Linked DNA regions of Homo sapiens: region 1 is linked to region 2. The links come from fine-mapping of genetic effects on gene expression. A gene starts in region 2. The other region holds a variant in brackets. All regions are shown on one strand. Distances are from middle to middle.

What was found. PIP is the estimated chance that this variant, and not a neighbour inherited with it, causes the effect.
Region 1: its variant is the best candidate, but not a certain one, in a credible set for the expression of LINC01289 in sigmoid colon (GTEx, PIP 0.77).

What each region holds. Positions count from the first base shown.
Region 1 is chr8:63,700,945-63,710,267 of GRCh38, reverse strand. No RefSeq gene overlaps it. Among named protein-coding and RNA genes, the nearest start is that of LINC01289, 64 kb to the left of the region's middle. The variant T/C (reference allele first, on the strand shown) is at 4,800.
Region 2 is chr8:63,764,757-63,774,079 of GRCh38, reverse strand. LINC01289 (long intergenic non-protein coding RNA 1289) reads right to left here and starts at 4,650. Exons shown (of 3, transcript NR_038875.2): 1 at 4,235-4,650.

The DNA of each region.
Region 1 (9,323 bases), 64 kb after region 2:
AAATTGGGCCCATTTTTCTTTCTCCATTTTTCCATTGGCACTGTCTGCTAATTTTAAATTTTCACTTTTTTTGTGTTGAAGGGGAGTGATTTTCATATAACCTTTCAATGACACAAAAGAGAAACTAGAGTTTTCAGTTTGGATAAGGTAGTGCTTCAAATTAGTAACTGTATCTCATATCAGCAGCTATGCTTAGAAACAAACTCCTGCCAAGTCCAAGTGACCAATGGTAATGACAAAGGGGAAAGAGAAATAAAGGCACATGCAAAAAAAAAAAAAGAGCCAGAGCCTCCCACAGAAGGGAAAAAGAGAGGACTGACAGTGTTAAAGAAAATGAAGTTACTATGCCACTGTTTTTTTAATGAGGAATAATATGTATTCATACAAACACAACTGCTAAAAGGATGAGGACACTGTACAGAGTTGTCTTATTGTAATGCATGTTTTAATGCATGAGTATCATAGGCTCTTCTATTAGGATATTTTAGGCCAGTCATCATATCCTGATCTTATTGGAACAAACTGTTTACACTGACTATTAGAATATATAGTATTTTCTTTCTACTTTTGTAAGCATTGTTTTTTTCTAATTACAAAAGTCATATTTTCACATTGGAGAAAATTAAGACCTTACAGAAAAGGATGAAGCAAAAAGAAATCAATAATAATCTCACAGTCCAGAGATGACTTTGTTGGCATTTCACCTTTTTTTCTTACACATGTATGTATATGTATGTGCACACTTAATATAAAAACTTAGAAAACATTTTGATTGTTTTTAAAACTCAATTTTATCACAGAATGGGTAGGTAGTTATTGTAGGAAAACTAGAAAATGTGAGAAAAGCTTTTAAAAAGAAAAATTACTAATAATTCTACTATCCATATATTTGGGTATTTTGGTCCAGACTTTTTTTTTTTTTTTTTTTTTTTTTGAGATGGAGTCTCGCTCTGTCACCAGGCTGGAGTGCAGTGGTGCAATCTCAGCTCACTGCAACTTCTGACTCCCTGGTTCAAGCGAATCTCCTGCCTCAGCCTCCCGAGTAGCTGGGATTACAGGCATGTGCCACCATGCCTGGCTAATTTTTGTATTTTTAGTAGAGACGGGATTTCACCATGTTGGCCAGGATGGCCTCAATTTCCTGACCTCATGATCCACCTGCCTCAGTCTCCCAAAGTGCTGGGATTACAGGCGTGAGCCACTATACCCAGCCTTAACCTACTCTTAATTTAACAATACGTAATGTATATTTGACCAAGTCATCAATTATGTTCCTATAACATGTCTGTTAATGGCTAAATAACATTCTACTGAATAGCTATACAATCATTTAGCCAATATACTGTAGGATATTTGAGTTATGTAAATGATCATTTTCTAACACTTTTTTAATAATAGGTTGTTGTACATTGAGGGTTGTGTGTATGTGATTGGGAGCAGTATGTGATAGGCATATCTAGTCTTCAATCAGAGAACCAAGAGATTCAATTGGTGCTTGGATCTAACTCAATGCCAACAATGCTACACCGGCCTGGCTGCCATTGACTGAGTTTTTAACAGTAGGACTTGCTAAACAACAACTAAAAAAATAGCAACTTTGGTGCAGAGCAGCCACCCTTGGCCCAAAAAGAAAGGTCTGTATTAGCCCCTTTCTCCTGTACAACAGCACTCACTAAATTCACATCTAGAATAGGAGGGGCACTTGGCATTTCATAATCTAACATCATTTCATAAATGCCCATACGCAAGCTCACACTGATCACTGGAATTAATTACTACTCACAGCAACTGTCTGAAGTCACTTTCTCTTTCCAAGTTCTGTAAATGGAAAAAATAAATAGACACAAGACAAGTGGGCTTTCATAAAACAATAGAGGAAATCAAAAGCAAAATGCCCTTACTATTTCTTTTGCTTCCTCATTTAGAAAGGAATTAAAACTAAAATGAGAAACTTAAATGAGAAAGCATGTTAAGAATGTTTTTCTGAGAGGAAAACAGAGAGAGAGGCTTACTATTACAGAGAGGTTTACTCTTTTCAAAAGCATCTGGGAGATCAGGACACAAACCTAAACAATTTATTTAATCAAATCTATCAAAATATTAGTTAATTTTAACTGTATCATCAAACTGGTCATTAGTGTTCATTAGATAAAAACCCCAAGGAAGGGAATGTGCTTGTGTTCCTGTAAATGTGTAGTATACAATTTCTACCTTTTATTGCACTTTGTGATTAAGCCAATGAATAATTTTTAATCAAGTAAACAAAAAAATACTAGTTAAATTGAACAATATGATCAAATGGTCTTCAGTATTGATTTAAGCCCCAGTGATGAGGATTACTGTGTGCAAATATAGGTATGTGCAGAATGTATATAGTATAATTGCTTTTTCCATTTTAAATTCACATATATCTTCCCATTTGAAAGAAAAATGCTGCTCTATCTATAATGCTGCCTAAGACTATCGCCTCTTCTTTCCAAATACCTGAAGAACAGACAAAGTCTGGGGTCTTCCCTGTAGAAATCCTACTGGACAATATTTCTAATACCGACCATTCAACCAAATCAAACTCCTTTTCTTCCGTCAGAATCATTTAAAAATTCAGTCAAAATAATTAAACTAGAATCTTCAAAGGACAACATTCTAAAGTCTTTGTAGGTTTTATAGAACAGAAACAATTTCATTTTAAAGGCAAAAGATTCAGTGAAAGAGAAAGTATAGAAGAATCCTCACAGCAACAGTACTCAACTAAAAATAAGCAGCAGAGATTCAGCCATGTGGAAGAGTTTCTACCTTACAAATCCTTAAGGGTTTGAATAAGAGAGCTTAGAATAATAGCTGTGTGTGGCGCAGTGGAGGAAGTAACACAGCGTATGGTTGGGTTAGGATGTGTCCAGTCAAGTTGTTGTTCCTTTCCTCTGTCAGAGAAACAGGATTCTTGAGCTGTAGAAGGAAAAAAAAAAGCTGGTTATATTTCTGTGCAGTACTGACGATGCTTATTATTCTTTGTTCCTAATATATAGAGGCGCAATGCTGCTAAGAGCCATGGGCTTTAGAACTAGGAGAGCTGGGTTTAAATCCAAGCATAGCAACTGTGTGGTCTTGCTGGGGCTTACAGCTCTGAATTTCAGCTTCTTTCCTTGTGAAATAAAAATGGTAATGCCTGTCCACCTTTCAGGGCAGATATAAGTAGTAAATGATACACTAAGCGTGGGGAAAAGCATAGCACACCACCAGGTATCTGCTAGATATTCAACACATGTTAGCTTTTTTCTTTCCTTTTTTAAAACACACTTTATGACTTGGGCATTTCTTAATTTTCTGCATTATCAAGTTCAAAGCATTCCCTTTGTTTATCCATGTTTTTCCCGTACTTCACCCTGTTTATCATCACTTGATACATATTTACTTGTTTGTTCTCTACTTTCTGCCATTAGAACACTAGCTACAAGAGGTCAGGAACTTTGTTCAATGCCGAATCTTCACCACTGAAAAATATGTCTATCACGTTGTGAGCGTTCAAGAGATATTTGTTGAAATAAAGAATAAATGGCTTATAAATTTGTTTCATTTAAAGCTGTTTCAAGCATTTCTTACTAAAATAGTCGACAACAACACACCCATTTGTAAATAATATGTACATGAATAGTTATCCTGATATATGCGTTTACAGTTCCATACAAAATTAATAGTGCCTTGAACATAATCAACATTTAATCAATATTTGTGAAACATTTAGTAATAAGCTTCTTATTCAACCAATATATATGCATGAGCATGTCTTGAGATGGCAGAAAAGCATCATTCCTCATTTTTGTCCAGAGAAATTAGTGCTCTTTGTGGAGATAAAATACTACAACCATGTATTGCCTAATTACATATATTCATAATTTACCATAACAAGTACTGCAGGAGTCTTGTGAAATACAATAACCTGAAATTGAGTTGTCATGCATGCATGTACATACCTGCAAATATAATGTTATAAATGTATAGGTGTGTTATGTGCAAATATGTGTATGTGCTTGTTAAATGGATCCTTGCCGTCTATTTGTTGAATAATTCATTAACATAGTCACATATGTGTATATAAAACAAGCTATAAAAATGTTTAGACATTGTGGAATAATATCATAAATGCTGGGGTAAATGCTATATGCCAAATGTCACTGGAATGAATTATGAGGGAAAAAGAATGCTGAAGTTTGATCAAAATATTAGATAAACCATGTGAAATAAGCTTAAAAGAAGAAATGCTGTCTATCATGTTTTTATTTACCATCCTATTAATGTAATTTTTTGCCATAGGTAAGAGAAAGAGAGACAGAGGCAGAGAAACAGGGAGGAATGAAAAACATTTCCTGAAAAAAATTCTCAATAGATTTGTGTTGTCATTCAAAATGAAAACCTATGAGCGTGCTCCCCTTAGCTATGGGTCTTTGGAAAACGGGAGACTAGAAACAGGGAGTGAGAAGTTCTGCTTGTAGAGAGAACATGGCCAACCTCCCTCCCCCACACCCCCAGCACTTCAACTCCTGCCAGGCAGGAACCAGAATCTTTTGTAGAACACCATTATAGTATTAGAAAGTAACACAATCATGAAGGAGAGAAGAAAGGCTTGATGTACATCGCCTTGTGACTCTAAAAGGCCCCCTGTGCCGAATATCCGAATATCGCGGCAGCGCGGAGTCGAAGGAAAGGCCTGCCCAGCTCAACTGTCAGGCCTAAGAGCAGCTCTGAAGCTGGTGAGGAAAAACATTCCTCCCCCAAAAGCTTTTATTTATTTTACTTTTTAAAGA[T/C]AGTACAAGAGATAATGCAGCACATTTGTGTAATTTCATCCTGAAGCTTGACATTCTCGATCGCTAAGGGCTCTCAGATCTCACACGTGCATGTCTCAGTTCTCATCCCACCCGCTTCAGGGGAGACTCACGCTTCTCTTGTGAAATGTGCTTGAGAGGTTATCATGGGCATTGGCAGAGGAGGGTAGTATTGATAGATAATTCAGACCTATAAGTGTGCGTGTGCGCGCACACATACACAAACACACACACACACACACTCCATACACAAGCTTAGAAGCTTCTCCTCCCATTGCTCTATCTCTTATCTCATGTAACTCCAACCCCACATCACCTTATCCTGGCCCCCTAATCTTCCTCCCGCCCCCACCCGCGCCCCGGAGAACAGACTGACATCTTCCAACTTGATATGTTACCTCCTCAGTAAGGAAACAGGAAAAATCCAATAAAATAATATCTAACATCCTGTAACACTGACACTGCCTCCCCGACAATATCTCCTTCCCCCCATACACACATATACATGCAGACACCCAATTTTTTGCCCCACCTTACAATGAAATTCTGGCTGTTTCCTAGGCCTTTGCAGATGCTCAGGCCCAGTACATCTGAAATCTACGAGCTGAGGGTAAAATAAATACTAGATGTGCAAAGGAGCCAGAAGGAACCATTGCCTTTTCCCAGACGAGAGTCAGGGAGAACAAGAACGTGATTCCTTCCCCATAACAGGTCTGTGAAAATTATGCCTAAAATGGGGAGGTAGAAGAGGGGCAAGAAAAGGTTAAAGAAAAATGGACAACCATAAAAAGATTTATAATTTACTTTTAAAATAAATCAGCAAAGGGAGACCCAATCTGCCATTTACTCCGAGGGCTCTGGGATTCCACGCTGAATAATGTGCCATGGCCCATTTTGATCTGTACTGAAATTAACAATCAGTCCTCCACTTTATGAATTATTATCTTTGTTAGCTTTACCACTAACAGAAATACACTTCCAATGTTTCACATCCACACACTACATCTATTAAAGCAATCTGGGAAATTAGTTTGAGATAAACTGTACAGCAATTTTATTCATAGCTTCCCTGTATCTCACACTGTTAATCTGCATCACAGCTCACTAAATAGTGCCTAATGTTTATTGCATTTAACTGAATGTATACGATTCTGAGGGTACGCCAGGGACCGATTATCATAATTATACATGTTTCTATGGAAACCCACAAGTCTATCAGTTTTGATTCATTATATTGTTATACCTTCTAGCACTTTCTAATTATTAGGTGCCCATAAAAAGTCTCAGTCTTGCTGTTACTATAGAAATGAGCTATAGACAGGCCTCCAATTGTTAACCCTTAAAGAACCAAAATATATAGAATCAGACAGTTGGTAAGCTAGTCATGAAACTGAAATAGCTAATAATTTTACCTATTACTTAAATTTATAATTGATTTGCTGTTATTAATTTCTGAAACTCTTTCACTTAGACAACTCATGAATGATTGCCTCAGATTTTATAAAATTGCTCTGACTTTGAGGTTCCCTATCCCTGATATACACCCTCAGGTATGATAAAAGATACACAAAAACTAATGCAACACTGAATTAGTGAGCACAAAGTGCAAAATGAAAAGTCTTTCAGGACCGATTCCTTATTTCATAGATAAAGACACATTTGCTGGTGTAAACATAGAATTATATGTTAACTGATAAAACAGATAAATCAGAATATAATAGTGAGAACTCAAATGCACTGAGAGTCTTTAAATCAAGCATCTAAAATTGCTTCAGAGCAATATGGCTATTTAAGTATAATTTAATATTGCTGCTTAAATTGCAATTTGTAATTTAATATTTTCATTTTACTTTTTCTTCTACATTCACTAACAGAATCCCGTGAAAATTGAAAGGGACCAAGCAGTTTCATTGTCTCTCTAACCCTCCTGCTATTATAGTTTTCAATTAGAAGTGCCTTTTAATTTAGATCAGGAAAGCTCTCCTAAAGTGACAGCTCGCCCTTCACACTGCATATCTATTTATTTCGGAAGTCAACACACTATTCAATAACCTGAGAACAGCCCTGATTGCTATGCTAATAGTATTCAGAAATATGTCGACACCGATCGAAACAAGTAAACTAAGGCTAATTCATAAAGTGAATAATAAAAGGCAGAGGAAAGCCTTTCATACTTACTACTTCAGCTGGAATCTTAAGCTTACAAATTTAATTTTTTCTCCTCCCTTAGGGAAATGAACGCTATGTGATAACCAAACTGAAATTAGATTTTACCTAATATTACAGCCTAGCCTATTTGACGCGGCTTGTTTTATTATATAAAGCTGCAGTGGGAAGCAGCAGAGACAATGACCGTATATGTTAATGCCTGTGTGAGCTGGGAGATGCTTGCTCCAGCCGCAGCTTTCTTTAGCTCAAAGCTAAATGCATTTTGCTTTTTGAGGTTGGGGGAGGAGAGGGAAAGCCACAGAATTTTAAATGTATGCCCACATTAAAAAACAACAGCACATGTTAGGTAACCATTTTTTTCATATTACAGCCCAAACCACCAACATCCATAGTAACTCCCCACCAATTAGGAATAAATCAAATTGTATAAGCAACAAAAGATACAGACATTTGCATGTTTAAGTTCAAACTCTTTAAAAAAAAAAAAACAGAGAACGGATCAAAGCCTTTTGTTCACAGCTCTTATGTAGCTGTTAGCATTAGAGAAAAGTAGATTTACTACTAAATAGGAAATTTAAAGTAGATTAAGAGTAAATTGAGTTAGATACTTTTAAAAACCCATTCATCAGTACATGCATGTATTATTGCATATATGTGTACAGCCTGGAAATCAATTATATTTATTTCACATTAAAATTAGTCTCCTCCCCATATTCAGACATTGGTTATTCAAAATAATTCAACTACATCTACATTTTTTTACTTAACCATAAAAATTAAACTAAACTTCAACAATAAACATTATATTTTTCACCTTGTTTATGCTTTCACTCCCATAATTATCAATTAGTTTTTCAACCCAATTCACCAACCTTTTTTAAAAATCTCTAGAGCCTATTCCTACTTTTACAACTAGGCAGATATATACATAGGTTGATAAACTCTAACAAAATATATAAGTAAGCAGAAAATACACTAACATTTCTAGACGAGTGAAAGAACTGTATGAGGAGAATAATGCTACTAGGGCCAAAATTTCATACACTCGATAAATAAGCCTTAAAAGTGACAATAAAAGATTCTGAAAGCAAGTGGAACCTGGCGTGTGCTTTTAGAGAATACCTAAAGATCACTGTTAGGTTAGTGAATCCTCGGGGGCTTATATGGGGGTCATATGTTAGGGTCACAAGGGTGATTAGGCAAAGAAAGCAGAGAAAGTAAAGCGTTCAAGCAGCAGGCATATTACCACCTGGGATTTCATTTATTTCCTAGAGATAGAGTCAAGGTAGGTCCCTGCATGGCAAAACTATGAATTAATTATATTCTGCCCCCACCCAGTGAGCATTAAGTGCTCAGATTTTCTTTTTGGGTGGTGGGGGAAAGATGACTTATCATTCACGGTTGGATGTTAAAATCCCAGAGGAGAGAACCAGTAAAAGCAGCTCCTAGTGACAAAAATCCAGTAGCTGTACCATGACTATCCATCAAACTGAAATGTTTTAGGATTCATATTTATTTGCACCACTTTGCCACTGAGGAAAATGTCTAGTCAACTAGAGAACGTCTAAATTCTTGCTTTTTGATTCTTATAGGAAAGGTGAAAAGACATCAGTGAGTTGTGATTTCCTTCAGCAGCGAACGGATTCCTTTGAGAAGGCTGGTCAGTGGCACAGGCGGCTCACAGACCCACACGGCAGGCCTTGGGCATTGTACTAACCCCATGGGTCATTTCTGCAGACCAGTGCTGGCCAGGCCCTGGACAGAGGGGCCAGGCCTGGCTTCCCCTCCTTGAGTGTCAAGGGTGAAGTGAGAAGATAACGTTGTCTCTGAGGTTTGTTATTCAGGGACCCTTGGGCAATGGGTCTTTTTCCAGTTTAATTACTGGAAATCAGGAAAGGATATAGATGGCTTTCTCCCCTGTTAGGAAATAGCCTAATGGTTACAGAGTAGAGTCAGATAAAAGAAAATGGATTCTGCACCAACTGAAGGAGGGCGTTCTGAGGAGAAAAGTACAAGAAGAGAAAGAAGAGAAGACTCAGCTTAGCAGCAGCCACAAACAACAACAACAAAAAATCTCAACCTACTTGATTCCTTCTAATCCCCTTCTTTGCTGATTTTCTTCCTTGTACATTTAACATAGGCAAATGTGTGCCTTTTAACTGTCAATTCCCATGTCTATATAAGCACTATGATTCGGGGCAGAACTGGGCTGCAAAAATTAAGACAATGAAAGAGCTTCTCCCATAGTAGATAAAATATGATTACCATACAAGAAGAGATCAAAGCATTTTAATGTGTTTATTTTTCACAGGCCCTATGTGTCATTTCATTAAAATA
Region 2 (9,323 bases):
CCCCAGGTCTGTTTTATTGACCTGTTACATGGATGGTGTTTATTTTCTCTCTCCACGGCTCAGTTTCCTGTTCTTCTGATACCAAGATAGTACTTGCTATGGTCTATGTCCCCCCAAAATTCTCATGTTGAAATCCAGTCACCTTTGTGATGGTGTTAGGAGGTGGGGCCTTCGGGCGGGGATTAGGTCATGGAGGCAAAGCACTCAAAGATGGGATTGGTGTCTTTATAACAGAGTCCAAGGGAGCTCCATCACCCCTTCTGCCATGTGAGGACACAATGAGAAGGCTCTGTTCTGTGAAATAGAAAGTGGGCCCTCACCAGCCACCCAATCTCTCAGCACGCTGATCTTGAACTTCCAGGCTTCGGAACAGTGAGAAACAAATTTGTGTTGTTTATCAATTTATGGTATTTTTGTCACAGCAGCCTGAATGAACGAAGACAGCACTTGCTTCCTCACAGGGCGCTGTGAAGATCACAGAACTAAGGGACACTAAGATGCCTACTGCAGGACCAGGAAAAGAATCCTTGCTGCTTTTCTTATTTTGTTCATTATTTCCTTTCTTTAGGGAAAAAGCTTTTCTCCATGTGAGAAAGATGATTCACCAAGACTCTGGGCACAAAGAAGTCATGTGCTCACTATCTCTGGGATGGGGAGTCTCTCCAAGTGTGATTCTCAGGCCAGTAGCACTAGCATCACTATGAGTGTGGAAGAAATGAGATTTCATGGGCCCTAAACTTACCACTGAATCTCTGGGAATGGGGCTTAGGAAAATATATTATAGCAAGGTCTCCAGAAGATTCTGATGGATGACAAAGTCCAAGAACCACTGTTCCACATGATCCCAGCCTAAATGAGATGCCCTTATTCCAGGATTTGTGGGTTATGGGTGCCCCAGGTTCATGTGTTTCTCCTCAGCCAGGTGAGGATCTGAGATCCCAAATGGGCCTAGGAAAGAAACACAGCTTCCTCCTCAGCCCTCAGGCCAGGACTAAGGGCTGGCCAGAACTTCTTCCAAATTCCCTCACCCACATTAATGTTGTTAAATAAAACCACTTTCAGGTGATCTGATCATCACAGTTTTACACACTTATATATAACAAAGGTTTCCCTTTATATTTGTAAAAATTAATCAGAGCGGTCTCAGAGTGAAAAAGGAACACAGCTAAGTGGCTGGCCTGGGCTCCACACCAAATCTTTGACACCAATTCTTTTTCTTACTACTTAAAAGAGATTCATAACAATAGCTTCCAGATTTGATTCCTTCCTCTTTTTTCCTAAAAAGATCCCTTATCAAATCAATATATTCCATGAACCAGACCACATCTGGTGTTTATTTTGAAAGCCTGTACAATTTGGGCTCTATCTTCAGAAAATTCTCTTAGCTTTTAAAAATTACCCTGAGCACATTGTCTTTCTTCTCTCAATTAGCAAAAGGCCTGCTCGTGGCTCAGTCACCAAAAAGAAATAAAAATATACATCAGAAAAATGGAAAGCTATTCTTCTCCCTTAGCCGTTGCAGTAGAGCATAATGACATATGGGACAATGGAGAAATCTGCAGAAAGTTGTTCTGAATTTTAGCCTAAGGACAGGCCCAAATCACTAGTCAGTATTAAAACTATAATCCTAGACTACCTTTAAAATATACTTTGCCCCCATAACTGTGATGATCAAAATCCCATTTTAATCAACCCACCAAAATTTCGAATGCATAATAGAGAAAATATATAAAGAAGAAAGTTATACGACTTTTTAAATCAATGATTCTTTCTCTCTCTCTTTCTCTCTGACCCACACACAAACACACAAATGTGCACGCACAGTCACATAGATACACAACATTAAAAGAAAAAATTACCAATAGTTTTCTCCACACAAGACTAAACTCCGTTCCAAACAGTTTTAAGGCAATGGAAAGGGGTGAGAAAACTTCCTCAGAGATCTGTGAAAGCCTGCAAGATTCCTTGTGATCGAAGGACTGCTTGTTTTGAAGACTAATGAGACTAATGAGTTCTCACTTCTGCAAAGCTCTGGGAACAGGGAATGTCTGGCTCAGTTAGGATATCTGGTAAAACTTACTTTTTATGAAAACAGAGCATTGGTACCTTTTAAGACTTTATATAATAGATATTAAATATTGTGTGCATGAAATCATATTTCACATTATTATTAGGTTTCTAGAAGATAAATGACAATCTTTACATAAGAAAAGAACTTCAGTGCTTCAAATTAAAAAAGTTAACCATGTGTTTTATTAATCAACTTATATATATACTTGAAAATTAAAACAGGTATAAATGTTTCCCCCTTTAAACTATTTTTATATAAATATTTCATTTTAGAACCTCACAACTAAATTACTTCAGATAGTCGTAATATCCACAGTTTACAAATGAGTAAAATAAAACAAAAAGAAATTAAGTGAATTTCCCAAGTTTAGAAAACAAGCTAGTGTCAGAACTACGACCATAACCCAGGTTGCCTGACTCCAATTTTCAATATGATTATTCATATTGAAACTGATGAATGAAATGAAGATATTTGCCAAATATACCAGCCAGAATTGTTTCCAATCATCCCCAAATGTAACTTTGATAGTTCTAGGTAATCCTTAATTTTTGATGTCAATTACATCCTCTACTTGTGGTCTAAAATCAAATTCAGAAATTCAGACAAAAAATACACATGCAAAAAAGTAGAATAATCCTAAGGATGAATATGATACTTGAACTGAAGGGTAAGAACTAAAACTGAGAAATCACCATCTCTGGCACCATGTGTTCATTCAATTCAACCCAAATGACAAATATAATAAGTCAACTACTGCTAGGTGCAGAAAATGAAGTAGTTCCAGACTGCAAGAAACACATAATATTCTATGAATATTAGATTAAAATGAAAGTATGGAATTATATATTTTAAGCAAGCTGTAATCACTATTATATGGTGACAAATTGTTTTTGCAGTAATTAGTTTATGTTGGTAGTTACTAGATTATTGTTACGTGCTTCTAATATGTTGTTGATGTTTTCTAATGATTCAGTTGAAATAGACAAGTTATTACTATAGATTGACAATGTCAAGTAGAAAAAGTTTATAGCTATACCAAATAGATATATTTAATTTGAAATATTTAAATAATAGAAAACGTATATTTGAGCAAACTAATTATTTTGAGAATCAAAAGATTAAATAACTGACACCTTTGGAAAAAAATAATAGGCTTCGAGTGGCATTCTCTCATGCCCAATACTCTGCTGTGCTTTTTAAGGGAAATTACAGCTGCCAGAGTTAATTTAATTTAACATAATTTAATTGTTGAATTTGTATTTTGTACACATCACTGAAGGCCCTAAAGCAACAGTATGCTTTTCTTTAAATGAATCATGTTTTTTACACAGTTTAAAGAAATGATTGGTTTTGAGGACAGTAGTGAACTGCAAAGAACTACCTAAGTATGCAAAATACCATCCAGCAACGTTTCCCTGACACCAATCCACCAATGAATGCGCTAAAAAATTAAGAAGTAGATTTCACTTCTTTTACAAAACATAATTTAGTCTTAATTCCCACTAAATACAAACACCACAGTCACAGAGCTTGGATTAGACCTTATATCTCCCTCACAACTTACCTTCCCTGGCCCCGCTTTCTCCAGCATTCACCCCTGTCCACCTGCATGCTTTAACTCTCTGTGTACAAGAGCATCACATTGTCTACATATATGAGTCTCACATACAATGTATCATTTTATAAGTTGTTGTTAATATCAACAAAAGCACAATAGTCTCTAATCCCAAACAAGCTAATGGATTTACTTAAGGACACTACAATGTAATGAAAAGAAGAATGAAATACTATAAAAAATTATCTTATATCCAGCTTAGGTGATGAACAGTTGTGTGTGTGACTTCTGGATTCATCTGTTTTCAAGTCACAGCTTCTCTCTTCCTGCCTCCTTAAAAGCCCTCATCCTAACAGGTTTCCTGGTCTGAATCTCTAGGGTTCCAGAATAAAAAAGCAGTGCCTGCCCTTGAAAATACTTGCTCCTCTTCCTTTTTGAAGGCAGAATGATATACCTAAAAGCAAATGATTCTGTAATAAGATAGAGTTGCAAGACATACTTAAGTCCTTTTAAATACACGTATAATGTATTTTTCAAATCTTACTGTCTTTTAGGAACTATGTACTTAAGCATTCCTTCACACTAGTAAAAGCAGCTACCATTATTACCTGCATTTTACTGATGTGTTACTTTCTGAAAGTTACAGTCACACTGTAAGTAAAGACAAGAATTTTTTTGATGGTTGTGATCAACACTTAGCTGGTTTTCAGTGGGACGTTCAGCTGTTATATCTTGTTCTTTGTGCTGCCTGACTTCTACGTGGACATTCATTTAGATAGCCATGAATATACTTGATTGCCATATACAAAACTCATGCTGAATTCTGCTCTCATGTTTCCTCTTGTGACAGGGAAGTTACTTTGATCTCCTGGCTTTCGCTTTCAGACAAATGCTTTGCCTTTCTCAGGAACATAAGGAAATCATAGCCTCTCTTCTCTGTTCTGTAGGAGACTTGGTGAAAGTTCCTTAGGCCTCTCTGACACTGACACATACAGTCATTTTTACTTTCCATGCCATGATCGTCATAGGATAGAATTCCCAGAAGTTCTAGAAACAAGTTTGATTGTCCATTGTCCAGTAGTAGAACAGGCTTGGTCTATCTTACCCCCAGGTATCCAAATTTAGTAGAAGTTCTACTGACAATTCCTCTAGAAGCTGAACAGTGGAATGCGGTGGGCAGGAAGCCTCTTTCTCAAAGAATTTTATCAGTTGCTGTCACTTGTGGTGGTGCAGGGGAGCTGGCACAGCCTGACTTGTGAAAGCCAATTGTTAGCATCTCTTCCCAACTTCACAATGAGTGCTGGCACATTGGTGGCTTGAAATCAGCCATGATAAGAGTATTTATACTACAGAATTGAAAACATTACAAATTGCAGCTTTCCACCCACCCCCGACCCCCCTCCCCCAAATGCTGATTTTTAAACATTTGCCAGCATTGCTCAAGCTTCTCTTCAAGTTCCTTTTGCTTCCCCCCAACCAGGAAGAGTTGTATTTTTTTTAAAATACTTTTCTGTGGTTACGGGTGAACATATCAAGATCCATATGTATTCTCAAATCTTCTAGTCTTATAGGTGCTGCAATCCTTCTTGGACTATTAGAGACCTTATATTTAGTGTTCTTAATGAGGATGAGTAAACAGTTTTAAAGAAAGTAGGGGAAAACTGGTTTATACTTCACAAACTATATTCACGAAAATAAGATCATGCACTTGCATGTGAAAAATGTCCTAGTGTGTCCCAAAGGGCATGGTGTTGCCAGAAGGGAGTAGCAGTCTCCTGGGTTTAGAAACTCATTAGAGTGGTCTTCTTTACGGCCTCCAGGAACTGACACCAGTGCTTCCTGCTTCAGGATGCAGACCCTAATTAAAATCCTGGTGATAAAATATCATTGAAAAGTCCACTCCCAGAAACATGAAATAGGTGTACATTTCCTATTCATCCTGCTAAATGCAACGACAAACCATGGACATTATATGTTAAGTAAAACAAGACTCTGGAAGGTGGGGACAAAAGGACAGGCTAGCTAGGGATCTCAGGACATGGGACTGACACAATAATGAGTTCCCTGGGATTTCTCAGACACGGAGCTGAAATAGTCAGCAATCCAGAAACCTAAGACCCAGACAAAAGAAGCCCCAGCAGGATCCCACTCTGTCTAGTCAAAGGACAAAGAAAGGTGTGGCCTCTAGAAGGAAAACTTTTAGATAATCATTATTCTACTCCAGCCAAACATCATGGAAAAGCAAACAACAAATAAACAAAACCAAATAAACAAAAACTGAGGCCTCAGCACCACCCGTGATAGTAAAGGCTAAATGAGAAGCTCAGACTTCCACCCTCCTGTGGCTGTGACAAATGGTCCAAAACCCCCACTGCGTTGGTGTCAGAGAAGGCAAAGGAAGTAGCTGGAACTTTCATGCTCACTAGCTGATGAAGGACTCCTTTCTTCCTTCATGGTATTAGTGGCAAATGTACAGACAATAGGGGATCCCGAACTTCTACACCCTGCATTGCAATTGCTCCCAACATGGTGTCAGTGGAGAACAGTTGGAAAGTCAAACCTTCTGCTCCTGTTCAGCAGCCCAGCAGGACCAGAAATCATCTCCCCACCACACACACACACTCAGGGGTAAATGGAGGCCAGTGAAGAACCTGGGCTTCTACCTCCACCTGGTAGTAACAAGGTAGCCTTCTCCTTCCCCTGCTGGAGTGTATTAAGAAGCTAAAAATGAATAAAATAAGATCCAGAGTCTCATAAGATAAATACAAAAACATTCAGTTTTCCAAAAAATTACTCATAATACTAATAACCAAAGGGTTCTCAAAATGAATGAAAAGCATTTGAATAATCTGACAAAATTTTAAAGCAGCCAGGGTAATAACGATTCAATGAGAAACTACAAACACACTTAAAACAAAGCCTGGCAGAGACACAACAAAAAAAGAGAATTTTAGACCAATATCCCTGATGAACATCGATGCAAAAATCCTCAATAAAATACTGGCAAACTGAATCCATCAGCACAAATAGCTTATCTACCACGATCAAGTTGGCTTCATCCCTGGGATGCAAGGCTGGTTCAACATACACAAATCAATAAATGTAATCCATCATATAAACAGAACCAAAGACAAAAACCATATGATTATCTCAAAAGATGCAAAAAAAGGCCTTTGACAAAATTCAACAGCCCTGCATGCTAAAAACTCTCAATAAACTAGGTATTGATGGGATGTATCTCAAAATAATAAGATCTATTTATGACAAACCCACAGCCAATATCATACTGAATGGGCAAAAATTGGAAGCATTCCCTTTGAAAACTGGCACAAGATAGGGATACCCTCTCTCACCACTCCTATTCAACACAGTGTTGGAAGTTCTGGCCACGGCAATCAGGAAGGAGAAAGAAATAAAAAATATTCAATTAGGAAGAGAGGGAGTCAAATTGTCCCCCTTTGCAGATGACATGACTGTATATTTAGAAAACCCCATCATCTCAGCCCCAAATCTCCTTAAGCTGATAAGCAACTTCAGCAAAGTCTCAGGATACAAAATCAATGTGCAAAAATCACAAGCATTCTTATACACCAATAACAGACAAACACAGAGCCAAATCATGAGTGAACTCCCATTCACAATTGCTGCAAAGAGAATAAAATACCTAGGAATCCAACCTACAAGGGATGTGAAGGACCTCTTCAAGGAGAACTACAAACCACTGCTCAACAAAATCAAAAAGGGCACAAACAAATGGAAGAACATTCTGTGCTCATGGATAGGAGGAATCAATATCATGAAAATGGCCATACTGCCCGAGGTAATTTATAGATTCAATGCCATCCCCATCAAGCTACCAGTGACTTTCTTCACAGAATTGGAAAAAACTACTTTAAAGTTCATATGGAACCAAAAAAGAGCCCGAATTGCCAAGACAATCCTAAGCCAAAAGAACAAAACTGGAGGCATCATGCTACCTGACTTCCAACTATACTACAAAGCTATAGAAACCAAAACAGCATTGTACTGGTACCAAAACAAAGATATAGACCAATGCAACAGAACGGAGCCCTCAGAAATAACACCACACATCTACAACCATCTCATCTTTGACAAACCTGACAAAAACAAGCAATGGGGAAAGGATTCCCTATTTAATAAATGGTGCTGGGAAAACTGCCTAGCTATATGTAGAAAGCTGAAACTGGACCCCTTCCTTACACCTTATACAAAAATTAATTCAAGATGGATTAAAGACTTAAATTGTAGACCTAAAACCATAAAAACCCTAGAAGAAAACCTAGGCAATACCATTCAGGACATAGGCACGGGCAAGGACTTCATGACTAAAACACCAAAAGCAATGGCAACAAAAGCCAAAATTGACAAATGGGATCTGATTAAACTAAAGAGCTTCTGCACAGCAAAAGAAACTACCATCAGAGTGAACAGGCAACCTACAGAATGGGAGAAAATTTTTGCAATCTACCCATCTGACAAAGGGCTAATATCAAGAATCTACAATGAACTCAAACAAATTTAGAAGAAAAAATCAAACAACTGCATAAAAAATTGGGCGAAGTATATGAACAGACACTTTTCAAGAGAAGACATTTATGCAGCCAACAGACACATGAAAAAACACACATCATCACTGGCCATCAGAGAAATGCAAATCAAAACCACAATGAGATACCATCTCATGCCAGTTAGAATGGCAATCATTAAAAAGTCAGGAAACAACAGGTGCTGGAGAGGACGTTGAGAAATAGGAACACTTTTACACTGTTGGTGGGACTGTAAACTAGTTCAACCATTGTGGAGGACAGTGTGGCAATTCCTCAAGGATCTAGAACTAGAAGTACCATTTGACTCAGTGATCCCATTACTGGGTATATACCCAAAGGATTATAAATCATGCTGCTATAAAGACACATGCACACATATGTTTATTGCAGCACTATTCACAATAGCAAAGACTTGGAACCAACCCAAATGTCCATCGATAATAGACTGGATTAAGAAAATGGTGCACATATACACTATGGAATACTATGCAGCCATAAAAAAGGATGAGTTCATGTCCTTTGTAAGGACATGGAAGAAGCTGGAAACCATCATTCTGAGCAAACTATCTCAAGGACAGAAAACCAAACACCGCATTTTCTTACTCATAGGTAGAAACTGAACAATGAGAACACTTGGACACAGGGTGGGGAACATCACACACCAGGACCTGTCGTGGGGTGGGGGGAGTGGGGAGGGATAACATTAGGAGAAATACCTAATATAAATGACAAGTTAATGGGTGCAGCACAGCAACATGGCACATGTATACATATGTAACAAACCTGCATGTTGTGCACATGTGCCCTAGAACTTAAAGTATAATTTAGAAAAAAGAGAGAGAAATACATCCACAGTTATAGTTGGAGACTTCAACATTCCTCTCTCAACAACTGATAGAACAAATAGGCAGAAAATCAGCAAGGAAACAAACGAAGTCAAAAATACCATTAACCAATAAGACCTAATTAACGTTCATGAAACAGTCCACTCAACAACATAAGAATACACATTATTTTCAAGTGCCCATAAAGCATATACAAAGATAGAACACATACTGGATTATAAAACAAGCCTCAACAGATTTAAAAGTATTGAAATCATAGAGAGTGTGTTCTGTGACCCAGTGGA